Homo sapiens: one gene and its partner. Each later gene encodes a partner of the first gene's protein in a complex. Each region holds a gene or a part of one and is shown on either strand. Other genes may lie near its edges. The genes, in order: SMAD1 and SMURF1.

Evidence for each region.
Region 2: the proteins of SMAD1 (region 1) and SMURF1 are in contact, whole or in part, in an NMR structure (PDB 2LB1), measured with the Homo sapiens proteins. Residues at the interface, in NP_001003688.1 of Homo sapiens: Asp221, Thr222, Pro223, Pro224, Pro225, Ala226, Tyr227, Leu228, Pro229, Pro230, Glu231, Asp232; in NP_065162.1 of Homo sapiens: Glu313, Val314, Arg315, Ser316, Arg321, Tyr323, Val325, Asp326, His327, Arg330, Thr331, Thr332, Gln333, Phe334.

The regions. Positions count from the first base shown.
Region 1 is NC_000004.12:145,472,887-145,488,923, forward strand, and holds the start of SMAD1 (mothers against decapentaplegic homolog 1), read left to right. Parts: upstream 1-8,966; 5' UTR 8,967-9,152; intron 9,153-9,447; exon of another isoform or gene 9,448-10,290; intron 10,291-10,339; exon of another isoform or gene 10,340-11,878; intron 11,879-16,037. UniProt on the Homo sapiens protein: Transcriptional modulator that plays a role in various cellular processes, including embryonic development, cell differentiation, and tissue homeostasis.
Region 2 is NC_000007.14:99,129,525-99,144,997, forward strand, and holds the start of SMURF1 (E3 ubiquitin-protein ligase SMURF1), read right to left. Parts: upstream 14,585-15,473; 5' UTR 14,257-14,584; coding exon 14,202-14,256; intron 1-14,201. UniProt on the Homo sapiens protein: E3 ubiquitin-protein ligase that acts as a negative regulator of BMP signaling pathway. Mediates ubiquitination and degradation of SMAD1 and SMAD5, 2 receptor-regulated SMADs specific for the BMP pathway.

The DNA of each region.
Region 1 (16,037 bases):
AAGCCTGTAAAGTAAAAAAAAGTTAGTTACTTCCAAGATACAATGGGGATAGAGAAATTGTATAAATGCTCCCATTCCAAATGGGAGAAATGGGCCAAAACAAAGGTGCTACAGGCCCCCATGCAAGTTCAAAACCCAGCAGGGCAGTCATTAAATCTTAAAGCTCCAAAATAATCTCCTTTGACTCCATGTCTCACATCCAGGTTACATTGATGCAAGGGGTGGGCTTCCAAGTCCTTTGGCAGCTCCTGTGGCTCTGCAACTCCAATGCCCCTGTGGCTCTGCAGTGTACAGCCCCCTTTAGCTGCATTCACAGGCTGGCATTGAGTGCCTGCAGCTTTTCCAGGTGCACAGTGCAAGCAGTTGGTGAATCTACCATTCTGGGGTCTGGAAGATGACAACCCTCTTCTCACAGCTCTACTATGCAATGCCCCAGTAGGGACTCCATTTGAGGGCTCCAATCCCACATTTCCCCTCTGTACTGCCCTAGTAGAGGCTCTCCATGAGGACTCCACCTTGGCAGCACACTTCTGCCTGGACATCCAGGCATTTCCGTACATTATCTGAAATCTAGGCAGAGGCTCCCAAAGCTCAGCTCTTGTCATCTATGCGCCTGCAGGCCCAACACCACGTGGAAGCTGCCAAAGCCTGGGCCTTGCACCCTCCGAAGCAACAGCCCAAGCTGTATCTTGGCTCCTTTTTGCCATGGCTGGAGCTGGAGGGGCTGGGTTGCAGGGCATCATGTCCCAAAGTGGCACAGAGCAGCAGGGCCCTGGGCATGGCCCACAAAACCTTTTTTCCCTCGTAGGCCTCCAGGCCTGGAATGGGAGGGGCTGCTGCAAAGGTATCTTACATGCCCTGGAGACATTTTCCCCATTGTCTTGGCTGTTAACATTTGGTTTGTCTTTACTTATGCAAATTTCTGCAGCCAGCTTGAATTTGTCCCCAGAAAATGGCTCTTTTTTTTTTTCAACCACATGGTCAGGCTGCAAATTTTCCAAACTTTTATGCTCTGTTTCCCTTTTAAACATAAGTTCCAATTTCAGACCATCTCTTTGTGAACACATACGACTGTACGCTGTGAGGAGCAGCCAGACCACATCTTGAGTGCTTTGCTGCTTAGAAATTTCTTCTGCCAGATACCTTAAATCATCTCTCTCAAGTTCAAAGTTCCATAGATCTCTACAGCAAGGGCACAATGCTATCAGTCTTTTAGCTAAAGAATAGCAAGAGTGACCTTTACTGTAGTTCCCAATAACTTTCTCATTTCTATCTGAGCTCAACTCAGCCTGGACTTCACTACCCATATCACTATTAGCATTTTGGTCAAAATCATTCAACAAGTCTCCGTGAAGTTCCAAACTTTCCCACATCTTCCTGTCTTCTGTGCGCCAAATTGTTCCAACCTCTGCCCATTAGCCAGTTCCAAAGTTGCCTCCACATTTTCAGGTATCTATATAGTAATTCCCCACTTTCCTGGTACCAATTTTCTGTATTAGTCCATTCTCACACTGCTATAAAGAACTACCTGAGACTGGATAATTTATGAAGAAAACAGGTTTAACTGACTCAGTTCTGCAGGCTAAACAGGAAGCAAGGCTAGGAGGCCTCAGAAAACTTACAATTATGGTGGAAGTTGAAGGGGAAACCAAGCACGTCTTATTATTGTGGAGCAGGAGAGAGAGCGAGGTGGGGGAAGTGCTATACTTTTAAACTATCATATCTCATGAGAACTGACTCACTATCACCAGAACAGCACGGGGGAAATCTGCCCCCATGATCCAATCACCTCCCACCAGGTCACTCCCCTGACACATGGGGATTACAGTTCAATATGAGATTTGGGTGGGGACAGAGAGCCAAACCAAATCACCCCACAAATTTAAGAAGCTGGAAATATAAGTTCTACTGCCATCATAATGTTTACCATAGAATTTTCACATGGAACTTTGTAATGTATAGACTGTTACAAAACTCTCAGGAAAAGGGCTGACAACTTTTTATTAATTCCTACAATTTATAATTAGATCTGAATTTCAGACTTGGGGGCAATAATGAGAACAATTACTAGCTGTAATTAAGAAAAAATACCAATTTGTATTTGACCGCAACAGTTGTATTAGAGATTTATTCTTTCAGCAAATATTTGAGGGTCTGCCATGACAGGTCTGTGCAAACTTTGGGCTTGGAGATGGGAACACAAACTAGATACAGCTCCCACCCACATATTACTTAGAAGAGCAGTGGGGTTTTCTCACTGGATATTCAATAATTTGACTAAATACATTCATAATTACAGACAGCTATAAGTTCTTTGGAGCAAAGGGTGTGATGAGAGAATAAAGGATTTCAACAACAACAACATTTTTTTCTGAGACAGAGTCTTGCTCTTTGGCCCAGGCTGGAGTACAGTGGCATCCTCACAGCTCACTGCAGACTTGACCTTCCAGGCTCAATCCATCCTCCCACCTTAGCCTCCTGAGTAACTAGGACTACAGGCACATACCACCACACCTGGCTAATTTTTTGTATTTTTTGTAGAGATGGGGTTTCACCATGTTGCCCAGGCTGGTCTCGAACTCCTGACCCCCACCTCGGCCTCCCAAAGTGCTGGAATTACAGGCATCAGCCACCATGCCTGGCCAGCGTTCCTTTTAATATGAAAAATAACACACCAATGATCCTTGGCAGGCTCATTCCAGGAAAACTGAGTCACTTAAATTCCCTGAGGGAGCTGAACTATAAATCATTACATTTATTTTTCTATTGAGTAGAATCATCTCTTAAAACAGGTTTTTGGATTTACATTTTGCCTATATAAAATTTGCAGCCAATTTTAAGGACTCGTCTTATTATAAGTGATTAGTAGCTGATTTTTTCCTGATAAACTGATTAGCATAATTAGTTTGCCTTCAGTTCCTTAATATCTCCTTTTCTGGAAGGATCTTGTCCTCCTCTCTACCTCAGCCATCCGCCATCTCTGGTCACACCCCTACATCTTGGCATTGCTCAAAACTGCCCCAGCATCATGATTTCAATTTCAAGTATCTCATTCCCAGACTGCTCCCCAGCTTTTGGGAAAGGCTCCCAACTCCAGTAACTCATGGACCACACTAGGAGCTTCACTCGGTGGATCCTATCATCTTTCCAACATTTCACATTACTATATGTTCTCGCCTTCCTCCTATCACAGACCCCCGACAGTCACTCTATTGCCTATAGCTTCTGCTGTCTGATCCCCTTCCCTTCCCTGACATACACCTGCAAAACCCCAGCCCTAGTTAAACTCAGCTCTGTCCCCTCAGGTTAACCGAGGCTGGAGAAAAACCCACAGCCATGCTGACTGGTCTTACTTTAAATTCATGGCCACTAGGCTGGGTGTAGTGGCTCATGCCTGTAATCCCAGCACTTTGGGAGGCTGAGGCAGGTGGATCACCTGAGGTCAGGAGTTTGAGACCAGCCTGGCCAACATGGTGATACCCCGTCTCTACTGAAAATACAAAAATTAGCCGGGCATGCTGGTGCATGCCTGTAATCCCACTTACTAGGGAGGCTGAGGCAGGAGAATCACTTGAACCTGGGAGGCAGAGGTTGCAGTGAGCTGAGATCATGACAGTGAGCCAAGATTGTGACAATGCACTCCAGCCTGGGTGACTGAGCAAGACTCCATCTCAAAAAATTAAAAAAAAAAATTAATTAATTAATGGCCGCTAACCTCAAATGGACACTTAATAGTAGCAATCTTACCACATTTCCACAGTTCATTCACTCTCAAACCCTACCAGATGACTTAGATATTACTCCTCTCTCTTCCAACCTCCAGCATCTCTTCAATCCCACCATTCTCGGGAAGCAGGTTCCCGGGCAATTTCACTAAGATGAGAGAGTGGTGAGAAGAGACCATCCCTGCGTTCTCACCTCTGCAAGCAAGCACCAGCTTGTGTGCATCTGGGTCCACACACTCTGCCTTCCCTCCAGTCACTAGCTTTTCCTACATCACTGCACTGTCCCCAACCCTGCCCCCCAGCTTTTCAGTGGATGTGTAAAGTAGACTCAGCTTCTAGGTCTTTACACTTGCTCTTCCTTTTGCTTGGGAGGTTGGGAACTCATCCCTCAGAGTGTGTACTGTGCTTCCTTCCCTTCCTTCAGGACCTCTTGCAGTGAGGTTTCCTCTGCCCCTTTAGAAATAGTCATCTCTCCCATTCTCAATCCCTCTTCCCCTGTTTTTTCCATCACTTGTACCACTACCTAGCATATTTGCGTATTTATTTATTTATTTATTTATTTTTTTTTTTGAGATGGAGTCTCGCTCTGTCGCCCAGGCTGGAGTGCAGCGGCACGATCTCGGCTCACTGCAACCTCTGCCTCCCGGGTTCAAGTGATTCTCCTGCCTCAGCCTCCCAAGTAGCGGGGACTACAGGCACATGCCACCATGCCCGGCTAATTTTTTTTTTTTTTTGTATTTTTAGTAGAGATGGAGTTTCACCATGCTGGCCAGACTGGTTTTGAACTCCTGACCTCGTGATCCATCCACCTCGGTCTCCCAAAGTGCTGGGATTACAGGTGTGAGCCACCACGTCTGGCCGTGTATTTATTTATTATCTGTCTTCCTTAATGAGGGCAGGGATTTTTTTCTGCTTGCCACCATATCCCCTGCTAGAACAGTGCTTCACTTACTCATTCATTCAACAGGTATTTAATATGCTCCTGTTAAATACCAGGCACTGCTCAGGTGCTGAGATTATAGCAATGAACACAGAAGACCAAAAATCCTGCTCTTTTGGCTAAATAATACGGAGACATTTGAGTGAAGACTTGAGGGAGATGAAGGAGTGAGCCATGTGGACATCTGTGGGAAGAGCTGTCCAGGGAGTGCTATGGTTTGAATGCATTCCCCAAAGTTTATATATTGTAAACTTAATCCCCAGCGCAACAGTGTTGAGAGGTGAGAACTTCAAGAGGTGATTATGTCATGAGGACTGTTAAATTAAGTTTAGGCTAAAGCTGCCTCCATATATATATATATACGTATATATACATATGTACATATGTATATACATATATATACACACACATATATATATATATATATATATTTTTTTTTTTTTTTTTTTGAGACGGAGTTTTGCTCTTGTTGCCCAGGCTGGAGTACAATGGCATGATATTGGCTCACCGCAACCTCCGCTTGCCGGGTTCAACTGATTCTCCTGCCTCAGTCTCCCGAGTAGCTGGGATTACAGGCGTGAGCTACCACGCCCGGCCCATACATATTTTAAGTTAGGCCTAAAGGTTTCTCTGTACACAGCAAACTGTAACCTAACTGGATATGCAAACAGACTGTAGCCAACTCTTGTACCAATCACAGAGTTTTGGTCAATCACAGGCAGCCAACTGTTCAAACTGTGTTAAAATAAAGCAAATATTTAGCTCTAACCAATCCAGTTTTTTCTGTACCTCACTCCATTTTCTGTCACTTTTCTTTCTCTGCCCATAAACATCATCTGACCCTGTGGCAGCCCCAGAGTTGCTCTGAAACTATTCTGGTTCTGGGGGCTGCTCAGTTCTCAAATTGCTCTTTGCTCAATTAAACTCTGTTAAATTTAATTTGCCTAAAGTTTTTCTTTTAACAGGGATCTGTCCTCATGAATGGATTAATGGCATTATGGGAGTGCGGTTTGGTATCTCAGGAGGGGATTGCTGATATAAGCATGAGTTTGGCCCTTTTCTACCCTTCCTCTCATGTTCTCTCTCTTGCTATGTGATGCCTTCTGCTATGTTGTGATGAAGGAAGAAGGCCCTCACCAGATGCAGCCCCTTGATTTTGGATTTCTCAGCCCCCAGAACCATGAGCTAAATTAACTTTTATTGTGTATAAACTGCCCAGCTGGTGGTTGTATTGGTCCATTTTCATACTGCTATGAAGAAATACCCAAGACTGGGTAATTTATAAAGAAAACGTGGTTTAGGGCTGGGTACGGTGGCTCACGCCTGTAATCCCAGCACTTTGAGAGGCCAAGGCAGGTGGATCACCTGAGCTCAGGAGTTTGAGACCAGCCTGGCTAACACCACAAAACCCCGTCTCTACTAAAAAATACAAAAAAAGATTAGCCAGGCGTGGTGGTGCATGCCTGTAGTCCTAGCTACTTGGGAGGCCAAGGCAGGAGAATTGCTTGAACCCTGGAGGCAGAGGTTGCAGTGAGCTGAGGTTGCATCACTGCATTCCAGCCTGGGTGACAGAGTGAGATTCTGTCTCAAAAAAAAAAGGTTTAATGGACTCACAGTTTTACACGGCTGGGGAAGCCTCACAATCATGGCAGAAGGTGAAGGAGGAGCAAAGGCACATCTTACGTGGCAGCAGGCAAGAGGGCGTGTGCAGGGAAACTGCCCTTTATAAAACCGTCAGATTCTCATGAGACTTATTCACAATCACGAGAACAGCATGGGAAGAACCCACCCCCATGATTCGATTACCTCCCACCAGGTCCCTTCTATGACACATGGAGGTTATGGGAGCTACAATTCAAGATGAGATTTGGGTGGGGATACATAGCCAAACTCTATCAGTGGTATTCTATTACAGCAACACAAAATGAACTCAGAAAGGGAGGGAACAGCTAGCACATAGATACTGAGGTGAGAATGTGCCCAGATTGTTCCAGAAGAGTGAGGATGCCAGTGTGACTTGGGGAAGTGAGCAAGAGGAAGAGTAGAAGTGCAGGTCAGAGTGCTAAAGGAGGGGAAGGAAAGATTATGTAGAGTCTTGTGCTTATTATGGGAACTTTTATTCTGAGTGAAATGAGGACCCAAGGGAGGATTTTTTAAAAATTTAATAAAATGATATTAATATACAGTCCATATTTAGGTTTTTATAATGGTCTCATCAATGTCCTTTTAAAAAGAATATCCAAATTTTTATTATCATTTAAGGAAATAATTTGCACAATGGGCAAAATCAAATTTTATTGCATACATAATAATATTAATAGTTATCATTTAAGACTACTAGGACTGCACTAAGAAAGGCCATCTAGGCTGGGCGCGGTGGGTCATGCCTGTAATCCCAGAACTTTGAGAGGCTGAGACGGGTGGATCACTTGAGGCCAGGAGTTTGAGACCAGCCTGGCCAAAATGGTGAAACCCCGTCTCTACTTAGATGGGCGTGGTGGTGTGTATCTGTAGTCCCAGCTACTCGAGAGGTTGAGGCAAGAGAATTGCTTGAACCCGGGAGGCAGAGGTTGCAGTAAGCCGAGATCGTGCCATTGCACTCCAGCCTGGGCGACCGAGCGAGACTCCGTCTCAAAATTAAATAAATGCCATTTTTGATTTTTTTAAAAATTAACGACTTTAAAATGACAGTTTATAGCTCCTCCTCCCCATTCAGGATCCAATCAAGGTCATATACTGCATTTCATTGTCATGCTTTTTTTTTAATAGCTTGAGGTAAAATTCACATACCAAATGATTGACCCATTTAAAGTGTGCAATTTAATGGCTTTTGGTATATGCACAGAGTTGTGCAACCATCACCAGAAACTAGTTTTAGAACAATTTTGTCACCCCATAACCTTTAGCTGTCACTCCCCAGGTTCCTCATTTCCCCAACCCTATGCAAACCACCAATCTACTTTCTGTCTCCATAGCCTTGCCTACTCTGAGCATTTCACATATGTGGAAGAATACAATGTGTGGTCTGTCTTCTTTCCCTTCACGTTTTGAAAGGTTATCCATGTAGCATGCATCAGTATCAGTACTTCATTCCTTTTTATGGCTGAATAATGTTCTCTTGTATGGGATACTTTATACTATTTATCAAGGGAGGGTTTTCAACAGAGGAGTGGCCTGATCCGAGTGGCATTTAACAAGGTTCACTTTCCTGTTGTTCTAAGGAGCAGAGAATGATCAACTGCGTCAAACGCTGCTTTTAGGGAAAATAAGATGAGGCCCACGAATTGACCAGTAAGTGCTCAAATAGGTTAAGGGAAAAAGGAATTTAATTAGAAGACATATTCTGATATACATTGCTGGGAGTGATTTTTTTTTTTTTTTTTTTGCTTCATGTGAAATTTATTCCTCAAAAAAAAATCATTTTTTCTAAACGTAACTCAACATTATAGTAATTATGCAAGATTTTATGCAGCTTCAAGAGTTAGCCAAGAGAAAAGTTGACTCTTGCAAGAAGATATTTTCAATGTCTATGCAGATCAGGTAGGTAAGAGTTAAGTGCGGGGGAGTTGGCATCATCTAAAAGACTGTAGAAATTGGACCAAAAATGTGGAGTTCTAAAGCAGTATCTCCTTATGGCATGCCATTATTTGGAGCAACAAGGTTACCTACTCGAATCACTGGATCCTGAGTTGACACAAAACGCATCTGTTGACTCAGGGTTTGTATAACCACGTGCAGTATTTACTAGGCTATCCAATTCTGGGTACGTACAACTTCTGGGGCCTGCAAATTATTGGAGAGTGAGTGAGGGGCAACGAAAGATAGACATAAAAGGGCGCGTCTCGAAAGGTAACTGTCAACATGCACTCCACGTTTATAGAACGATTCAGTGGGCGCGGTGGAAGCGTTAATGAACATTTCAGAAAATAAACATATGGAACATCGAAATTCACTTGCAGATAATGGACTAAGTCCGCTCCACCGGGACTAAAAAGGCAGGGTTAGGAAAGCCTGAACGCCGCCACACTGTTTTTTCTCCAGGAAGAAACGGGGCGTGGGGCTGCCGGTAGAAGGGGGTGGCTCCGGCCGCTCCCCCGCGCCGTCCTCCGGCCCCGGCCGCGCTGCGCTCACGCCGGCCGGGCCGGGAATTTGGAGAGGATCCCTGGTCGCGCGGCAGCGGCGGCGGCGCGCGGGTGAGCGGGTGAGCGTGTGAGCGGGCGGGCGGGCAGGCGAGTGCGCCGGGTATTGGCAGCTGAGGAGTGGAGGCTGGGCAGCTCCGACTCCCTGACGCCAGCGCGACCAGATCAATCCAGGCTCCAGGAGAAAGCAGGCGGGCGGGCGGAGAAAGGAGAGGCCGAGCGGCTCAACCCGGGCCGAGGCTCGGGGAGCGGAGAGTGGCGCAGCGCCCGGCCGTCCGGACCCGGGCCGCGAGACCCCGCTCGCCCGGCCACTCGTGCTCCCACACGGACGGGCGCGCCGCCAACCCGGTAAAACGAAACAGACCCGAACCGAACTTTCCCTTCATGCCGCGTCCCAGCCCTCCCCTCGGCGCCCCGGGCTTTCCAGCGCCGCCGCCGCCGTCTCTGCACGCGTGGGGCCGCCGCGGTCGTGCTGGGCTGGGGGCGCGGGCAGCGGCGGGAAGGGGGCTCTTTCTGCGCGGGGCGGGCCGCGACCCCCCCCCCCCATGATGGCGCCTCCCGTCTGCTCGGAGGAGCGAACCTGCTACCACGTCTTCTCGCGCCCAGCCCGCCGGGCTCCCCTGGTGTCTTTGTTGGGTCTTCTGCTGTGGGAAGCCCAGTTCCCGGGCCCCCGAGCCTCGGCTCCCGGGCCTGACCGCGCTGGGATCTCCCCGGCCGCGCTCCCCTTCCGCGCGCTCCTCACATCTCTCCCGTGCTGCCGCCGGGCCGAGGCCCGTTCGCGTGGCCCGCGGACCCATTGTGTCCCCCGCGCCGGCGGGGCGACCCCTGCGGGAGCTGGAGGACGACCGCTGGCGCTGCTCTCCAAGGCGCCTGGTGGAGCGGGTCTCGCGGGCGGGGGACCCCGGCGCCCCGGGCCCCTCCACATCCCGCACGGGTTTTCTTCTCGGCCCCAGCAAGCCTCTTTGGGGTCGAGGTCAAGGAAAGTTCGCACCGAGATCCCCTCTAATTTATTCAAAGGTTTGGCGGCGGCGCGTAATTTTTTCCCCCTCTTCCGCCTACACCCGCTGCGTCTCCTGGTGTCTCGTTCCTTTCCCTTTACCGGAGTCGATTGCCTCACTGCATGTGTATTCGTGAGTTCGCGGTTGAACAACTGTTCCTTTACTCTGCTCCCTGTCTTTGTTAGTGTTTCTCGGGGTTGTTTCTGTAGGAAGGTGGGGGTGGTGGGCGTGAGAGACAGATGTGGGCTTGTTTTTCTAGTTGCTGAAACTGTATGAAGGCTTTAAAGGGAGAACGTTTTCTTGATGTGCTTTAGGAGGGGAGGAGGAACAAATGCCTGCCAGATCTCACAGCTACAGTAGCTGAGCTTTTGTTTATTTTGAAGAGCATGCAATTTTTAAATACACGGTGCAAGATAACCAGTAAAGGCGCGTTCCTTCTGAAAATTGAGGCCGGTCTCAGAACCATCTCCTGAGAAAGCATCCTTTTCGTGAGTGCTGAGACAACTGTCCTTTTTCTCTGCCCTCCCCCCTCTTTTCTTTCCATTGTATCTGAAGTTTCAAAGTACGTGGAATGATACAGAAGTTGCATGATTTCTGTTATTTCTTCCTGTTGCTGAAACTCTCAGCCGCTAAATCTCAGAATGCCTCTATTTCAGAACATCTCTGGGTCTAATTGCCTGTTGTGGATAACTTGCCCACACCTCAGTAACACAATGAGAAAACTGTTCCCTGCCCATGTTGATTTTTCAAATTGTTTGTAATTACTTTAAATTGTATTGAAGGTAGGTGGACCGTGTTAAAAAAGAATCGGAACAGAAGTGTTCACTGCCCCAGCATTTTCAATTGGTATAAATATTGTTGCATCAGTGTTATTCTGATGTAGGTGCCAGATCTAAATATGCTGTACTGATTAAAGTGTTTGTTCTGCCCTCTCCCACTCTCTTTCCCATTTGCAATTATTTGCTATTTCTGTGCAGGTGGTGTATCATTGGTGTAATACTGCAGTTCTTAGGAAGGTGTAGCTAGGGTCGTGAGAGATGATTTTTCTGGAGGTGGGTGATGCCAGAGCCTCTAGAGGATCCAGGCAGGATCGAGTTTCTTCTGAGGGTAGGGATTTGTCCTTGATTTAGTTTTGACCCCTACAACCATAGGTATGTAACCAAATACATTTTACCTCTTGCAGTATCCTTTGGTTTCGTATCCTTGAAGAGCTGATGACCTTTGTGTTTTAGAGAAATGACAATTTTTAGGCAATTAAAGACATTGGCCTCTTACACTTCTTGGAATTTTATGTTATTTTTACTAAGTTCATTAAGGCATTAAGAGGAAGTTGTCACATTTTCTCAACTACGTTTATTACATTTATTAGTTAAAAACTAAATTTCACTTTGTAATTTTGATTTCTAGCAATTCTGGGTTAAATATTAAATCTAATAACCTAGTAGATTGGAAAAAGAAGTAGCTTGGGTATAGTAATTAGACTAGCATGTTTAAGCTGCAGTAGCCTACATAATCAAGGCCAAGTGTGTGTGTATAAAAGATCTCATTTGTGTAGTCTTACAAGGCTAATGGAGGCATCACTGAGGCTTTATAAATAATGTAAGTTGGGTATAATGTAGAGTCTCCAGAGACGGCAGAGAAAGCATCATTACCAGCCTTTTCAACCTGCTTGAGATCTTAAATTGATTTACAGCACTGAACTGGTGCAAAATGATACATCAGGATGACATGGGGTCAGCCTGTAAAAGTCTATGATGTCAGCCTATTAGTTCAGTCATCATAATTAAACCATATTACAGGGGTAGCTAAGCAGGAGTCTGGCGTTATACTTCAGATATGGGTGGTACATGGGTTTTGTTTATAGTGGAAAGGCTGAGATGGCCAGGGATACCAGTGTGTGTGAAAGAGGGAAAAGGCTTACAGAACTATGAATTTCTGTAGAAAAATTTAAGATAAATGCAGAGATATTCAATCTGAATTGTATAAGTAGCTTTTCATTTGGTAGAGGAGAAACAGATGCTTTAGGGATGCTGATAAGGACCTTTGCAGCTCTGATATGTGTACTGAATGCTTCATGTGAGTTTGAATTTAACTTGGCCTTAGGGACCTTATAAAATATCAGTGGACCACATACTTAACTTTGATCCTTTTATTACCCCTGAATTTTCACTGTATTGATATCTACTGACATGTTATTTCTTTAACTAGTCAAACTTACCAGGCCTATACCAGAAACAAAGATATTTGAATTGAACATATAAACAGTTCAGGAAAAGAAGATCCTTATTTTGCTTAAGTTTCTGACAATCCTTATTTAGCTTATGGATTATCTAGGGCTCTGCTATCCTAGCCATAGTCACACGTAGCTTTTTTTGAAATTTTATTATTCTATTTTTTTGAGACAGGGTCTCTCTGTGTTACCCAGGCTGGAGTGCAGTGGCACGATCATGGCTCACTGCAGCCTCGACCTCCCAGGCCCAGGCAGTCCTCCCACTTCAGCCTCCCAAGTTGCTGGGACTACAGGCACTGCCACCATGTCTGCCTGACTAATTTGTTTTTGTATTTCTTGTAGAGACAGGGTTTCGTCATGTTGCCCAGGCTGGTCTTGAACTCCTGGGCTCAAGCTGTTCTCCCGCCTCGGCCTCCCAAAGTGTTGGGGTTACAGGTGTGAGCCACTGCACTCGGCTACTTATAGCTATTTAAGTTTAAATTAAAATTAAATAAAAATTCGTTTTCTCAGCAGTAGCCGCATTTCAAGTGCTTAGTAGCTGCTTGTGGTTAGTGGCTGCCATACTGGACAGCGTGTATATAGAATAGTTCCATCATCACAGGAGGTTCTGCTAGCCATTGCTGCCCCAGGACCTTTACCTCTTCTCACTTGTTAACTCTACTAATGATTTGTGGAGTCAAAGATGGAAAGACATATATAAACTAATTTTATCACTAACTAGCTGTTCTTTTTAAAATAAAACACAATTTGGAAGGGACAGTTGAAGCTGCTGGATAAAAGGAGTTTGACTTTTCTGTAGATCTTATTTATTATTAGTGTCATCGATTCTAATTTGGTTTAGAGCCTTAGAGAGAAGAAATAATTGTAGCTAACCCTTTTTTCTGAATTTTTACTGTATGTATGCCAGGCATTGTTTATAATACCCATATCTCATTTAAGCCTCAAAACTTCCATAAGTACTATTGTTGTCACATTTTACAGGTAAAGAAACTGAGGACAGAATGATTCAGTATCTTGCTTCAGGAGGTACAGTGAATGATTATGATTTCTAATCTTACCTGGGATATGATCGAGGCAGTCCAACTCTAGAAACTCCATCTTAACTATGTTTTTTGGTCTTTCGTTCAGAAGACCCAAATCATCATTGTTCTGCTGTGCTTTACTATGCCAGTATAGACATGACTTGGCTTGTGTATTTTGTAGGTCTTTAAATAAATTTACCTTCTATTGTGCCTTTCTGGGCTATCTTCTGTCGTTCTTTTGTAAGTGTTTAAGAAAGGAAAAATAATGCTCATCTAAGCAGCACATAATTTGAAGAATAAATCTGGCATGAAAATAATGCATTTCAAAGCCAAATTAGTTTTATCTCTGCTTTTCTGCATAATTCTTGTCACTTTCCTCTTGCATTTTCTTACATAATCACAAACTGATATTAAGTTAGGAGGAAAGTTGTAGTAATTCAGTTTGTCTGTCTTACCAAAATTAGTCTATCTTCCCTGAGCTGTTAAACACTGTAAGAATAGTAATTGCAAATTCATTGGGGATTTTTAAAAAAACATTCAACATCTATTTTTGTAAATGTTTTACAAGGTCAGGGCTGTTTAAGAATCGATGAAACTATGGATCTTGTATCTTCTTATTCCCACCTTCCTATCCCAAAATGCTTATATGTCATGGTGAGTTAATGTGTACACTTAACTATCCAAATCTCATGGTCTTTCGGGTGAAATATGTCCATGGGACTGCCAAGTGCTTTCATAAACATTAAGATTTGTAATTTCCTTTACAGAGAATAGAGATACTTAGTATTAAAAGTTGCTTTAAAGATTTTCTAATCTGGTTGGTTCATATCAAGGTGAACAGTCTGAAGTCCAGAGAAGGTAACTGACATCCAAAGTTACCTGTCTAGTGATTGGAAAAGGGAAAGCCAAGATCTGGACTCCTCTTGGCATTAAGTGCCCTTTTGTTTTCAGGTTTTTTTTCTCCCTACCACGCTCACGATATTTCTGAGGCTTTGGTGTAAGCATATCCAGTGTAATTTAGGGAAGGGAGGAAAGAATTTTTTGGCCTGTTAGCAACTTTTTATACCTAACATTGTTTGAGCTAAGTAGGAATCAAATCTGACAACCAGAGAGAAATGCTTATTTTCTACATATTAAAATTGATTCTTTTTCATTCTGGAGATGGAAAAGAAAAGCCCTATATCTAATTTAATCAATGAGACCTTATTAGAAAATGGGAGATCCAAGATTGCACAAAGTTCAAATTAAAGCAGGCAACTCTGACATCTAGCAAAATATACGAATCTCCTCTTGACTCTCGAAAACAAATCACATTCCTAACCAAAAGCTAAAGTTTGGGGTATTTAGGGAGCTAGGGAGTCCTAGGGAGAGAATTGGACAGGTCTGAGGAGAAAAAGGATAATTTAAATATAAAAAAGTGGAAAAAATCGGTTTTAAGTCATAGCATGTCTTTGAGGTTGATGAAATGTTCTGCTACTTCTATATGTGGTTTTACTCTTTGGTACCAAGATTTTAGGACATACTTTGATAACAAATAGGGGCATGTCCTCTTTGCCCCAATCTGAAACCTCTTGACCCTTTATTTTCCTTTCCTGCTGTTATCTGGTAGTACAAATATTCAGTCTAATCTGTTGATCTGGCATCTGATTTGCAGCAAAAATACCTGAAGTATTTTCATCACTCTGCTGTAGCCACCTTTAAAAAGAAAAGGAAAGAGAAGAAAAAGGCAGAGCCAAATAGTATTAATGTAATTGCTTAAAATCTAAATTAAAATACTCATCTTGCTCTGCGTTATTAAGATGGTGTCAGTTTTAGAGGTGCAGGGCTAGTCCTATATGCAAAACAGTAATGTCTGTAGCTATTGCGGGCTGACTTGCAGAAATGAGCGGCTTCTCTAGAACATTCATTTGCATAAAGGAAACTATCTTTCAGAAAAGAAAAGCCAAAAGTTTCATAAGCAGTTTCACTCCAGTGACTACATCAGAGTTTTAGTAAGGTACTGGGAACTACAGTATTTGAACAGTTCAGCATCTTTATAATTTTTGTTATAAGCTAAAATCTGAACTTTAGAGAAGACTCTCTCTTGAAAATAAAGCATTAAATTCTCTAAGGTGTGAGGAAGTCCTTACCTGGTGATTTTCCCAAATCTCTTTTATGTTCTTAGTGTTTGAAAAAGGAACTTTTTTTTTTTTAATAAGAACCTAGGTTTGCAGTATAGATTGGTTTCTTAACAAATATTTTTTTTGAGACAATAAGCCTGGATCTGAAGAAAGAACATACAATTGTTAATTATGCATGTATATGCTTTTGAGTTCAGGATGTAAATGAATATTCACTAGGTCCTGTTTGGGAAGAGGAGGAGAGAGGGGTCTCTCTGTTGATTCAGAATATATTTTTATACATAAGTTTTAATGCTTTATTTGTAGTTTCCCCTTAATTGTAGGGCTGCTGTACTGTGGATATTTTGCTCTACAATCTGAGATTGTTAGGGTATAGTTACTCCAACTATTCATGTATTATCCTCTCCCTGTCTTTTTGTGTGTGTGTGTGTGTGTGTGTGTGTGGTTTCTTTGTGGTGTGCTTATGCAAAGTAGAAGTATTCCAGACCTTTATAGCTTTTTTTTCTTTTAGTTTCAAACACTTCAAGAAAAAAGGTGGGGGGGAGACTCTCTCAACGGTTATAATTAGGCATTAATTAAGCCATTATTCAGTTAACTAAATGCAAGATCTTTTGTTTGTTTAGATGGAAAAGAAACGTATCTTTTTAATGAAGGAGGGATATTAAATGGGCCCTTATTTGATCATTTTGCTGCAGTATTGTAATAAGTATATGCTTCATTTATTCCCTGAATATTTATTAGTTCTGAGGCTTAATAATTAGAGTATACACAAACATGAAAAATTAAATGCAGCAACATTATAAGAGCCGTTACAAGGTAGTATAGGAGTAAATTGTACAGACAACTCACATCAGGACCACTGT
Region 2 (15,473 bases), on another chromosome or scaffold:
GGACTACAGGTGTGCACCACTATGCCCAGCTAATTTTTTTCTATTTTTGTATAGATAGGGTCTTGCTGTGTTGCCCCAGCTGGTCTCAAACTCCTGGGCTCAAGTGATCCTTCCACCTCAACCTCCCCAAATATTGGGATTACGGGTGTGAGCCACTGTACCCAGCCTTCCCCCATTTTTATAGCTAAGGAAACTAAGAAATGATGTCATTTGTGTAAAGGCACAGGCTGGCTCCAGCCGAGCCCTTCATCATTCCACCTTGCTGATTCCACAAACGGAAGAGCTTGGCGGTCTGTGGGATTCAACCATTCCTGGAACACAGGTTCGAACTTCAGCGAAGCATCTTACAAAAACTTTTTTTCTTTTTAAGAATATAGAAGTGAAAATACAGAGCCCCAGATATCAAGAACAGACATTAATTCAAAGAATTTATTATAGGGTAGGGCTGATAATCAACTATCCTATAAAAATCATATTATTGCATAAAAACTAAATTATTTTTCTTTCTACACATCCTGAATTCAATTTACAGATAATCAGCATGTATTTCTCTCTCTTAAAACTGCTCTGTTATCTCTAGAGAAATAATTTAAGAATGTATTCCTATAATCTGTACCTGAATTTTGTTTAAAAATACTCCCAAATAGGCTGGGCATAGTGGCTCACACCTGTAATCCCAGCACTTTGGGAGGCTGAGGCGGGCCAATCAGCTGAGGTCAAGAGTTCAAGGCCAGCCTGGCCAACATGGTGAAACCTATCTCTACTAAAAATACAAAAAATTAGCCAGGCGCAGTGGCACATGCCTGTAGTTCCAGCTACTTGGGAGGCTGAGGCAGGAGAATCACTTGAACCCAGAAGGCAGAGATTGCAGTGAGCTAAGATCACACCACTGCACTCCAGCCTGGGTGACAAAAGTGAAACTCCGTCTCCAAAAAGAAAAACAAAAAGTCCCAAATAACATTATACAACAATCCAGGAACATTCTGCAATACAAATTGACAACAAAATTTATGGGGCTAAGTTCACATATAAAGGTACCACTCCTAACCCTTGGTCAAAAATTCTTGGCACTTTTACCAAATCTTTTGCTTCATACTACCACAAAGAAGGTATACTTCTTTTTCAGAAGTGCATTAAATGGTAGCTGTACCTTCCTTTTACTCAGCATAATGAAGCTAACATTATAAATTTTAAAAGAAAACAATCGGTATCATCTAGTTATTTATTGATTGCCCACCTGGCATCCATATTCCTGTTCCCCCAAACAACCCAAGTCTGTATTGTGGGTGGGACTAACCCCCTGATTAGATTCAAAGATGGAACCTAATTGTCCAACGAGCACATCCCATCATCCCAGCCACAGCGGTTGGTTCAGCAATGAACACTTGACCCAAATTAGGCCAATGAGACAAGAGGATTCAACTCCAGGCCTTCTACCCCAGGACTGAGCTGTTGAAGAAGCAGACTTTTAACTTTTCTGCTGGATTTAAAGCTGCAAGCAAACAGCCATGGAGCTTTTGAGCACAAGGGGAAGAGATGGTCATGAATAGTGCTGAGGTCAAAACACTGAGATATAGAGAGAAACCAGGTCCTTGCTTTGCCATTGGAATGACTTGGGCTTTTCAGTGAAGTCACTAAAATTCTCTCTATTGAGCTAATTTAACCTAGGTTTTCTGCTACTTACATCTGAAGGTATCCTGCTTTTAAACAACAACAACATTAGGAAGTGCGATATTGTACATAAAAGACAGAATTAAAAATGTGGAAATTAGCTGAAGAAAGGAGGCAGGGTGAAAAATCAATGAATACCCTCCTCACCCGGCCTGAGAATTTAACTATCTTTATTATCAGGGAAAGAAACAATCAGACTGTGGTCTGATGCAACCACCAAGACTACAAGGAACACTAAGGGACTTGGTAGGAAAGAATCAAGGAAATGGGTAGGTGGGTGGTTCTTGCCTGTAATCCTAGTACTTTGGGAGACCAAGATGGGAGGATCGCTTGAAGCCAGGAGTTCTGGACAAGCCTGGGCAATATAGTGAGACCCTGTCTCTACAAAAAGTTTAAAAATTAGCTGGGCATGGTGGCTCATGCTGAGGTGGGGATGACTTGAGCCCAGGAGTTTGAGGCTGCAGTGGGCTATGACTGTGCCATTGTACTCCAGCCTGGGCGACAGAACAAGATCCTGTCTCAAAGAAAATGCAGTGAAGAGGGAGGAAAAGAGGCCCTTTCTGCTACAAAATGCAATCTAGGGGAACCAAGAGATAGGATGAAGAAAGAAAGGGAGGGAAGACTTAGCAGGAGATAAGGCTGTGGGGTAGGGTGAGCAAAAGAAGGCTTCCCCAGGTCTCTCCCAAGCACTCAGGTCCAGTATTCACAGCCTGAAAATGGGAAACGTTATTCAAGATGCAACCGCAAAGCTTGGGCAAGGGGCAAATGAATGATGTCTCTCCAGCCCAACCAGTTATCCCCGCCAGCCCTGAGGGAGAGGCTAAGGAAAAGACCTGGAAACCAAAAGCTACAAAGCTGGGCCAAATTCCAGAATTAAAATTTCGGGCTTTGGTTCAAGCCCCTGGAATGGCCCAGAAGCCCAAGATAGAGTAGACTTGCCTTTTAGGGTATCACATAGTCAAAGAAACCCCAAGCCTGGCTGACAACAACCTGTAATTGCTTGATCTCTAATCCCTGCTCATATCAACAAGAAGTGGCTATGAACGCAATGCTGCCTCCAGGAGAGGTGTCCTCCGACGCCCAACTCAGAGGCGACCAGGAGACCCAATAAACAAGGAGGGCATTAATTCTCTCATTCACCAGGTATTTGTGAGCACCAGCAGGTGCCAAGCAGTGTTGAAGGGGATACAGAAGTAAACAGACAGCAAGGACCCTAGCTTCACGGAACTTGACTACCAAGAGCAGAGACAGAAAATAAAAATTGATTGGACATTGGTAGATGGATGATGGGAGAATAACCAAACAAAAATACCATGAAGTGGTGAGTGCTATGAAGACAGCAGAATAGGCTGCCTGATCGTGAGTGAGGGAGGGACTATGAAGGGATGGTCAGGGAGGGTATCCCTGAGGTGATGATATTTATTTAGGCTGAAGGCCTGAATGACAGGAAGAAGCCATTGAGAAGTCAAGAGGAAGAGTATTATAACATCACACAGACACACGGACACACACACACACACACACACACACAGAGGAATAATTCATGCAAAAGCCCTTAAGCAGGATTAAACTCGCCACATTTGAGGACTGGGGTGGAGAATAAGGCAGAACCTGGCACAGAGGCTGCCAGAGAGGAATATGGCAGGATCACAGAGGGAGTTTGATTTTATTCTGAGTAGGGAGCTGCTGGAGGGCTTTAAGGAAGGAAATGACATGATCTGATTTATGCTCTTAAAAGATTTGGGGGTGACAGTTTAGTGGTTGCCAGGGTCCCAGGGACTGGGGATGGGTGGATGCGGCTAGAAAGGGATAGCTCCAAGGAGGCTGGGGTGGTGGTGCAGCTGGTCATCTTGATTGCAATGGTGGTGATATGAATTTGTACATGGGATCAAACTGCATAGACTGCTACACACACACACACCCCACCCACACGCAGTGCACGCGGAGCTAGTGAAATCTGACTAAGCTCTGGATTGCACCAATGTAAACAGTTAGTTTCCCGGGTCTTTTTGCTTGCATTATTTTGCCCTTACTTTTTCCCTATCGTTAGAACCCATGAACAAGTTCCTGGTTTTGACATGCCACAGTTATACAAAACACTAAAATTGGGGGAGGCTGAGTGAAGGGTACACAGGACCTCCCGGTACATTTCTCTCCCATCTCCTGTGAATCTATCATTACTTCAAAATTAAAAAAGAAAAAAAAAAGGTCTCTAAGGCTGCCATTTAAGGTATAGATTAGAGAAAAAAGAAAGTAGAACCACAATATGTGACACCAATCCACACTCAAGGAAAGGGTTAAAATGAAAAAGAAAACACGCAGATTGGCAAAGGAGCACCTGGAACTCTCATACGCCACTGGTGGAAAATGTAAATTGGTATAACCACTTCGGAAAAGCATTTGGCAAGTTTCATTACAGTTGAACATATGCCTATTCCACAGTCCAGTGACTCTACTCCTGAGTATACACCCAACAGAAGTGTATGCAAATACTCACCAAAAGACATATACCTGAAAATTCCAAACAGCACTAGTCTTAAAAGCCAAAACTAGAAAGGACTCTGCCCATCAACAGATAAAGGGATAAATTATGGTATATGCCCATAATGGGATATTGAACAGCAAAGAGAATGACTGACGTACAACCACACATAACAATACGGATAAATCTCACAAAAATAACATTGAACAAAAGAAACCAGTTGCATGCAGTAAGATTCCATTAATACAAAGTTCAAAAACAGGCTGTTACAAGTCAGGACTGTGGTTATCTTTGCCAGGGGGGTGCGGCTGAGGGAGGTAGAAAGTGAGAATGAGCTATTTTCAGGATTGTAGGGACATTCCAAGCACCAGCAATATTCTATTTCTTGATCTAGATCAGGAAAAGTGCTTCTCCACCCACTTTTTTTTTTTTTTTTTTTTGAGACAGGGTCTCGCTCTGTAAGGCTAAACGTGCCTTATTTCCAGAGTTTTTTGGTTTTGTTTCGTTTTTTTTTGCAAATTCTACTCCTGAGCAATTTGTTTATTTTTCTCTTTTCCCCAATCCTTAGAATCTGTGAACAATTTCCTGGTTTTGATATTATACCAGAGTTTTACAAGGGACTAAAACTTCTACCCATGTTTACAGGTATTTCCTCACCAGGCTCAAGTGAGGAACCACGCGAGAACCCTTTGGAAACTATGAAACACTGTACAGACGGGAGGTATTAGTATCACTGACAGGTATGAACAGGCAGCAAGCAGGTCTCACCTCTATAATTTGTAGGTAATATATGTAGAAATAAAATTGAGTAAACTTTGGATTTTTTTTACCCCAAAGACCTAAGAGGGGAAAAAAGCAAATATATCACATTGAAGTTACCATGTTTTCTACTTCTACAGAGCCAGATGCCAATATTGCTTTTTAAAGCACTTCTAAAATTAAAAACAATCCCTTAAAAAAGTTCATGGCAAACACATTGACTATAAATACTTGGAAAAATACTAAATTATTATTACTGGCTTATGCAAATGAGCATTTTACTCCTATTTTAAAGATGAGATTATTTTATAAAAATAGGTCAGAGATAACCCCAAATGACATTCTAAATAAATTATGTAAACCACTATTATTCAGAACCAAGACCTCAGTTTTTTAAAGAACTCACTATATAAACAAGATCTAGAGTCCAAATTTCTTAATCTGAAAGTAATCATTTTGCCTTATTTTAATATGATAGAACAAGCTTTTTGGGGGGTCAGGCAACTCGCTATTACATAATAAACATACTCTCTGGGAAAATAAGTCTGTTCAGAGCTATAAGACAAGTAGCCAAGAATTTTATTCTGTAGAACCCAGGAATCTTCCTAGTGAGGAAGTCCTTATAAATATGAGTATGTACTTTGAAATGCTATAATATTTTAGCCTTTTAAAATACATTCGGCACAATCATTTTGATTTTTCAGAATGTCTACATTTCAAAACAATTGGCAGTTAGTGTACTTACTAGTTGCTCTAAGAAATTCTTATCTATTTAAGAGCTTTTTAATCTTTTTAATTGTTGAAAAGCAATACATGCTCAAGGGGGTGAGAAAAGGGAGGAGATTAAATATTACAAAAGGCATATAATGAAAAGTCACCCTCTCTTCTCTCTTTTCTCTCCTCTCTCCCTCTCTCCTCTCTCTTTCCTCTGAAGAGGAGAACAGGAGAATCTCTTCAAAGGAAATCAACAGTCAAAATCTTTCAGTCGTATTCTATACAGACCTATCTATAGATTTCCCCCTTTATTTTTATTTCTTGTTTTATTATTCAAATAGTACACACACTAGCCTCTGTTTTGAATCATGCTTTTTCCCCCCACTCAATAATATATCTTGGAGAATGTTCCATATCAGAATATAAAACACTATCTTATTATGTTACAGCTACACATCATTGGGAATACACGATAATTTACTTAACTAGTCCCTGCTGATACACATTCACATTGATTTCAGTCTTTTATAATTTCAAACAATGCTGCAATGATTTTACACACCGGACTTTACATAAATGTGTGAAAACACCCATAAGAAAAAAGTCCTACATGCAGAATTGCTAGATCAAAGAGCATAAACATTTATGATCTGATAGACAGTGCCAAACTGCTCTTGGTACCTACTCTATCAATTTATATTCTCAACCACTAGAGTAAAAGACCTGTTTTTCCACACTCTTGTCTCATCACAGAAGATTTTCAATCTCTTTGATCTGCCACTCTTCTAGATGAAAAATTGTTTCATTCTTACTTTTAATTTGTAGTTTGTTTAGTATGAATAGGGCTGATTATCAATTAAAAATAAATTTTTAGAGAAAGAAAATGGGCATAAGAGAGAACAGGGCACAGCGGCATATACTTGCAGTCCCAGCTACTCAGGAAGCTGATGATCGCTTGAGCCCAGGAGTTCCAGGCTGCAGTGAGCTATGATCACGCCAGTGTACTCTAGCCTAGCCTGGGCGACAGAGCAAGACCCCATCTCTAAAGAAGAAAAGGAAAGAAGAAGAGAGAAAATAGGGTTGTCTTTTCACATGTTTCAAATCCATTTCCATTTTCTTTTCTGTGAATTGTCCATATTCTTTGCCTATTAGGTACTGGCCTTTTCCTAATTGATTTTGAAGGCTCTTTATATATTAGGAAAACCAGACTTTCATTTTCGTATCCATTACAGATTGTTGTTCCTAGTTTGTCTTTGCATGTTGATTTTATCCTATTTTTTGCCATGGAGAAATTTTCCATCCAGCTAAAGTTTTTTATTGTTTATAAGTGTTTTTCAGCTGATCTTTTGGGCTTTTAAAGATATATCATAACGTCTATAAATAACAGCAATTTTGTTTCCTGCTTTCTGATGTCTTTCTCTAGTTATTAATAATAACTATTTTGACAGTGTACATCCCTGCATTGTTCCTGATTTTAATGGGAATGTTTCCACAATTTCATCATTTAAAGATGATGCTGGCTAGGTGCAGTGGCTCATGCCTGTAATCCACGTACTTTGGGAGGCTGAGGCAGGTGGATTGCTTGAGCTCAGGAATTCAAGACCAGCCGGGCAACAGGGCGAAACCCCATCTCTACCAAAACTACAATGATTAGCCAGCCGTGGTGGCACATGCCTGTGGTCTCAGCTACTCGGGAGGCTGAGGTGGGAGGATCACTGGAGCCCAAGAAGTCGAGGCTGCAGTGAGCTGTTATGGTGCCACTGCACCCCAGTCTGGGTAACAGAGTGAGACCCCATCTCCAAACAAAACAAAAAATAAACATGATACTGTCCGATGGCACATTACCTGGCCTGGGAAAAACATAAAATAAAAATAAAGATAATACTGGTTTTGGCTTCTAACACTATTTCTCTAAGGAATTTCTGAATACATAATTTATCAATTCATTGTATTATTTTTCCATGTTTATTAACCGGTTCTATAGATTTTCTTCAATGTCAAAGTACGTTATTAGCTTTATTATTTACCTGGCTATTTAGGAATAAGACATAACAGGAATCTATGACTGTATTAATACTGTGCTACTCTATAAATAATTCATAACTACTCATTAAAATATTTAATCCATCTCTAGCAGGTCCTTTTGTGCTCTAAAAAGACAGATCTCTGGCATTAAAGATAGGAAAACTGAATCATGAAAAGATCATAATCCTATGCACCCCCTCCCCTTTCTTCATTGTGGTACTTGTGTGAATTAGAAATCAAATTCAGACCTTCTGATCCCCAGTCCAGTGTTGGAACCACAGGAAAGCATCATGCCCTTTAGAGAACTCAGCGGATGCCCAACATACAAAGAACGCAGGCTGCCATCTACAATCTGCAGCTTCGTGACATGCTCCTCCAGACTCCTGAAAGCAAGCTGCAAGTTGGGCTCCGGAGCTTAAAACATCTGAAATGCATCACCCAGCAGCCAGGAGGATAGGTTCCTGCTCAGTGATAAACGATGTTGCCGACATTCCTCAGCCAATTAGAATTCCTTTCAGCTGCAGTGGAGGTGAACACAGCTGGAATTACAGAGTGGGGCGCGTCACCAGACGCGCTGATTATACATTATTTAAGCCTTGTTTTAAAACAATATGAGGGTGTTTTTTCCCCCATTAGTCCAGAAATGTGGAAACAACATTCCACTTGGTTTAAATATCTAAATGGATTAAATTGCATCTGGAGACAAAACAGTAATAGTGACATTTTAAAAAGAAGATATGCCCAAGCCCCATAGCTATGTGCTTTTGTTTTTTAAACATAGCTCCATGGCTTTCCTTTAACTAGAAAGGCCTTAGGGACTTTAGTCAGTCAGAATGAGTTCCCTGGACAAGAAGCTAATTTAAGTTGGAGGCTTTCACTTACAAATTCACTTACAAAATAACAAACCAGTAATTTAAAACTTGTTCAGTGACAAAAAAAAAAAATTGTATATTCCTTGTTTAAAAAAAAATTAGCCTCTAAAATGGTTTTGAAATTATAAAAAATTGATCCAAATAAGCATCCTAAAAGTTAGCTGTCTTACCCAGCAAATCAGAGCATGGCGAAGATATCAAGTTATTTCATCCATTTGAGGCTTTTTTGAACCACTGAATAAAACGCACAATTCAGCTATTTTAACTGTTAACCAGTGCCCACGATGTTGTACAAAACAGCCAGTCTAGTTAACTGGATCACTGAGGTGATATTGAAACACTATTTGTCGTTTTGTCTTTTTTTCTTTCTTAATCCATGAGGAAATATTTCATAAATAACACAGCCTCCAAAACCTTTCTTTCACCCAATTTTCCACACTAGAACCTGACATTGTGACTGAACCGAGAAAATGAAAATGTGTGGAAGAGAAAGAAAAACCCAACATTCAGAAAGGACTTTTGTAACTGCAAGACTAGAGGTTTTAAACTCTGACAGATGGACTTGAAGTTAAAAATCCTAGTTTGATAAATCACAACTACTGTAAAAATGGAGATAGAAATAAAGCATATGAAAGATTTCATGTCTAAAGTCAGTTGGGTGGGCCAAGAAGATTAAAAGGAAAAAAAAATGGATTTGAAAAAAGAAAGTTGTTCTAAAAGGCAACACAAATGTGATCAAATCACAAAATCAATGACAAAAACCTCTATTTGGCAGAATGTGATTCTTCTTAAAGTATAATTGCAATTCAAGTTTTGCAACAGCATTTGTTCTAACCCATCCTACACCTTCCAATAATTCATCTCAAAGAACTGCCTTAACTGTATCTTCCTAAACTTGAGGCAGACCCTAAGGAAAATGTAAATGCAAAGGGAGCTAAAAACTGACCACTTATTCCATCTTATCACAGCAACTGTGTTATATGGTTTTTGAAACAAAAGTTTTGCCTGCCTCACATAAGTGAGGTTCTTAGCTGGTACAAATTGACAAAGTCAACAGTCTTAACAATTTTCTTAATCTTTCTTGAGAGACTTAACTATTTTGAATCAATTGAGACACCTGTAATTCATCAACCAACATCATCAACAGCTATTACCACAACTATTTCACTCACAGTTGCACCATCTGAATGCCAAAACACAAGTCACCCTTACATCCCACAAGCTACAATTTTAAAAACAACCTCATATTTCCACATGCTATCAAGGAAAGTCTCTTTGTTCCTCTCTGTTTGGAATTAGAGTTTTTCTTACTTCACAATATGCAGTCATGCTCCAAAAGATATAAAAACACCAGGATATCTGAGAGTATTTCAATGCATAAAAGCACAAAAAAGTTTAGGCACTTGTATTTCAACTAATTGGTTGACATTACAATAAAATTTAATTTTCTTGAAGAGCATTGTAGAACCCTGAATTCCATTCTTTTACCCAAAGTGGCCTAAACAATGTGTCTGGGATTCATTTGTGTACCAGATAAGAACAAAGTTTTTGCAAATCCTGCTTGATTTTTCAATCAAAATGTTTCTAAAGTGTTTGATTTGCCAGTGAACTCCAATGACTACAAGATAATGCTCTTTAACAAAAGATCACTTGATTCTGGATATATTATGCCCCTAAACCTACTGAAACCATTTAAAAACTATTTTCCTACTAAAATACCACAAAAACATTCGTTAAAATGTTATTATTTTAAATACAAAGGCTCAAATATTCTTCTACTGTTTAGACCAGGTTGCCAAAGCAGTTCAACATATTACCCAACAGTTTTCAAAAACAATCCCACATGAAGAAATAAAGTCATAAATGTAATCAATACACAAAATTAATGCTTGGCATAAATCAAACACATGTGCTACACTCCAACACAATTTTCTGAATATCAGGATTAAGAATACCACTAAGCCCAAGTGCCCAACAGTAATTTGAAATAAGTAGGTAGCTAAATTGATATATCCTGTGAGAAGGAGGATCAAAGAGTATTATAATGGAGCTGAAATCTCATTTGATATATAAAGAAACTGAGACCCAAAAAGGTTAAATAACTTGTTCCGTAACATGTAGTTAATGAGAAATCTGTCTAGAATCTAGGTCTCCTAACTGTAAATCTAATGCCCTATTCACCCCCAAATAGAATCGTGGACCCCAAAGTTCTAAATGTAGTATCTTCAGTATCCTTTTTTTTTTTTTTTTTTTTTTTGAGACAGAGTCTCACTCTGTTGCCCAGGCTGAAGTGCAGTGGCACAATCTCGGTTCACTGCAAGCTCCACCTCCCAGGTTCAAGCCATTCTCCTGCCTCAGCCTACCCAGTAGCTGGGACTACAGGCGCCCGCCACCACACCCAGCTAATTTTTTGTATTTCTACTAGAGACGAGGTTTCACTGTGTTAGTCAGGATGGTCTCAATCTCCTGACCTCGTGATCCGCCCCACCTCAGCCTCCCAAAGTGCTGAGATTACAGGTGTGAGCCACCGCGCCCAGCTAATTTTTTGTATTTCTAGTAGAGACGGGGTTTCACCGTGTTAGCCAGGATGGTCTCAACCTCCTGACCTCGTGATCTGCCTCAGCCTCCCAAAGTGCTGGGATTCAGGCGTGAGCCACGGCGCCAGGCCATCTTCACTATCTTTGCACTGAATTTCGCTCTGTGTCTATTCATTGACTGGTTGAAATATCCCTCATTTTTAACAGTCTTTTTTTTTTTTCCAAATAACAAACATGGAAATAAACTCTGAAACCTGTAACAAAAGTATTCAAATTTTGAAAGATTGCTTCTCAACATCCCAGAAGTGAGAATTCAAACTTCCCTTAACCAGAAAGATGAGACTAAAACCTATTCCACCGTCAACAAACTTCTAGTTCAAACCTTTCGAGGTAAACTAAGGTTCCACGTACTGGCATTGCATGTGTACCATTACCGCTAAACCGCAATCCTATTGTAAGGATGATCACACTCACAAATCCTCTCAAACCATTCATAACATCTACTGAAAGGGAAAGGGAAAGGGAAAAGGTGTTTCAGAAACAACACTCATCACCTGATCCTTCCCTATCAAATGTCATCCAAAAATTCCTCAAAGCATTCTTGCTTCGATAATCTAAATTCCTAAATCCAAAAATAATTTGGTAGGAGGAGAAACCAAGTCCTCCCTTTCAAGGCTCAGGCTTGGCAAATAGGATTGATTAATATACATACACCAGACATAAACATTTCAATTAAAACCTATTCCTTCTAAAACATTCATCATATTTCTAACACAAAATCAGTTGCTTTCGCTTTTAACAAGATAACTGAAACCAATCTGATGTCAATTACAGACTGAGCTGTAAATCAGAACCAAGTTAAAAGCTTTACAAGTATTACAATCTCAAAAATGTTACTTTTATCTTACCACATAAATAAAAATGTATCTACATTGTATCTACAAAGTGAGAAGCGTTTCCTATCAGCCCTGGCATAAAGAAATGTATTTCCCCAGAAGCAAAGATCCCAGAGGAAACTACCTCCTACGTTACAAAACCAGGGTCTGGGTTTGGGTCCAAATCATTATTTGATATCTTTATACAAAAAAACAAAACCTTCTCTTAAGACAAAAGTTGGGCCATGCAACAACTATGGGCTCTCAAAGTAAATTTTAGTTTAAAAAAATTACCTATTGTTTGCATGGATTTTACCGATGACTTTATGGCTGCGCATCTGCCATAAAGTGTTCAAAACGCTCATTCTCTCTTTGAAAGGACCTGACCAAACCAGGACTTTGGAGTTCTCACCCGACTGAGCCACTGAACAGAAAAATCCAGGGGAAAATCCCTGACGGGGATTAGAATGAACTTTTTAGTTTCCTTCCAGAGCTGGAAATATTCGAGTTTGGAAAGTCCCGGAGCAGAGCCGCATTTGCAACACGGCCATCCTGCTTTAGGGATGAATTGAAACTGGAAAGAGAGTAGTACCAATGAGAGTGAGAAAGGGAAGACGAGGATGCAGCCTGGTCCAGAACCTCTGGAGCCCGGGGGGAAACAGGTTGGCATCACATCCGCGCCACCAAGTCGCAGGCCCGCGGCAGAGCGTTGCGCTCACCCTTGAAGGTGGCACTACAGAGCCACCCAGGAAACACGGACTTTTCATTGAAGACAAAATGAATCAAGGAGCCTGCGTGTGGGCAGCTTCCAAAGCCTCCAGTGAGTGTGGGAGTAGGGATCAGAGCCTCACGGCGCTCTGGGTTGCTGAGTGTGGGGGTGATGGTGAAACAAAATGCAGAAAAGGTAAAAATTGAAGAAGCAGAGTTAAAAGTAGCTAGCGGTCTGGCCTAAGAGACAGGAAGTGGCCCAGACTGAGACTGAAGAGGGCTGGACCAGGGGGAAGTGAAGAGAGCAGGACTGGGAGCAGCTACAAGATAGGATTGAGGAATTTCAGGCTGAAGGAAAGAAAGGGTGGAGGCCTCGCCAGACAGCAGCGAGGGGGCGGGGCTAGGCAGGAATGAGGGCGGGGCTTGAAAGTGAGGGGCGGGGCTAGGGGAAGAAGGGAGGAGGACGGTGTGGGGGGGTGAGGGAGAAACGAAAGAGGATGGGGGAGTGAGAAGAGGGTGGGTGGGGGCAGGAGGGGAGAAGCAAGGGGGCAAGTGGAAGGGGAGGTAGCAAAATAGCTTGGAAGTGGTGGGAAAGACCAGGAGGATGAGGGGAGGGAGCAGGTGGGAGGGAAAACAGGAAAGCAAGAGAGATGATGGGAAAGTGGTGAGAAGTGAGGGATGGGACCAGGGGAACAGAGGCAAGGCCAGGAGGGAAAAGCGAGGGGGCAGGTGGGCGGAGAGGATGGGAAGCGAGGAGAAGGAGGGAGGGGGTAAAAACGGCGGAGGAGAAAAAAAGGAGAGAAGCAAGGGGGCGGGACCAGGAAGAAGTGAGGGCCGATGCTAGGAAAGAAGTGAGGAGGCGGGACCAGGAAGAAGTGAGGGCCCAGGCTAGGAAAGAAGTGAGGAGGCGGGACCAGAGAGAAGCGAGGGAGCTGGACGCAGGGAGAAGCGAGGGGGCGGGGACAGAAAGTTAGGAGGCGGGAGCAGAGAGGAGCGAGGGGGTGGGGCCAGAGAGATGGGCGGGGTCAGGTTTGGGGAGGAAAGGTGGGGAAGAGAAAGGACCACAGGGATGGAGGTGAAAGGCAAGGGGGCGGGGCCTGGGGGGAGAAGCGAGGGGTCAGGTGCTAGGGAGAGGAAGGGAAGCGAGAGGCAAGGGGCCGAGCCGGGGAGAGGTGAGGGGAAAGGGCCTGGAAGGAGATGCAAGGGGCGGGGCCAGGAAAAGAGAAGCGAGGGGCGGGGCCAGGGAAGGAGATGCAAGGGGCGTGGCCATGAATGGAAATGAGAGGGGCGGGGCCAGGACGGAGATGCGAGGGGGCAGGTGCGGGGGAACGGGAGGGAACGCGAGACCGAGGGGGCGCGAGCGGCCAGGGGGCGGGGCCGGGCAACGGCGAGGGGGCGGGGCCAGGAGGGAGAAGCGAGGGGCGCACGCCGAAGGGGGTGACGAGGTCCTGGGACAACGGCCGGCGTGGGGGAGGGCCGCTTCCAAGGGCGCCCTGCGGGGAATTCCGGGGCGGGCGAGGGGGCGCCGGGGCGCGGGTGGGCCTCCCGCCGGCCGTACCTGTCAGACGGATCTTGATGCTGGAGCCGTTCCTGCGTGTCCCGGGGTTCGACATCTCCCGCCAACGATCGGGCAGCCGCGGATCCAGCGCCACCGCCCCCCAGCCCGGCCCGGCCCGGCCCCGCCGCCGCCGCCTCAAGGTTACGGCTCCGGGCTGGGCGCCGGGGTCCGAGCCGGGACACAAACTCCGCGGCCCAGGCGTCCGGGCGGCAGGCGGATGGTCGAGCCGGGAGATCGGCGCTTGCTGCGGCGCTCTGACCCTCGCTGCTTCCAGCCGAGCCCAGTCCCGAGCCGCCGCCGCCTCCGCCGCCGCCTCCGCCGCCTCCACCACCTCAGAGCCGGACGCCCGCCGCCCTCGCCGCTTCCGCCGCTGCCGCCGCCTCTCCGAGCCGCGCGCGCGCCCGCCGCCGTGCCGGCCCGGCCCTGCGCGCCCCCGCGCCTGCGTGCGTGCGCGCCCCCGCCACGTACGCTGGGGCGGGGCGGGGTGCGCTGCTACGTCGCCCGCACGCCTGCCTCGGGCGCGCGGGGCCCGGATCCCGCGGGTTGGGGTCTTCACCCTTCCTGTGGTCGGTGGGTGGGAGGGTCTGGCCCCGAGCCCGGGAAGGGAGAGCAGAGCTGGCCCCGGGACCCAGCGCGCGGTCGCCCTCTGTCTTGACCCCTGTCTCTGCGAGGCTCTGGGCTCCTGAGTGACTGAAGAGTGGTTTGCATGAAACCGTGGGCTGTGTCCACACCAAGCTCCTTGCACACAGGCGTGCAATACCAGTTTTTTTCAGTTAAGAGCTTTCGATCGTGCAAGTTCAAGGGAGGGACTTCTCAAAGAGACAAAGCCCTTAGGTGTGTTCTGTGCAACGGGTGTGCTCCACTGACCCATAACAAAGTTGCCAGAATCGCAGAAGTGCCATATACGGACAAGGAAAACGAGATGAGAGGGAGGGATAAAGTTGAGAGGCGGATGTTTGTTATTATCCATTCTGCATACAATTTTACCAAACAAGAAAGTGGCATTGTGGTTTGTGTTCCCATGTCTTCTGCTAAATTTCCCCTTCTCCCGGGGTTGCAGGTTAGAACCAAAAGCTCATGGCTGGGTACGGTGGCTGTAGCCTGTAATCCCAGCACTTTGGGAGGCCGAGGCGGGCGGATCACTTGAGCCCAGGACTTTGAGGCCAGCCTGGGCAACATAGGGAGACTCCATCTCTACAAAAAATACAAAAATTAGCTGGGCATGGTGGTGCGCGCCTGTAGTCCCAGGTACTGGGAGGCTGAGGTGGGAGG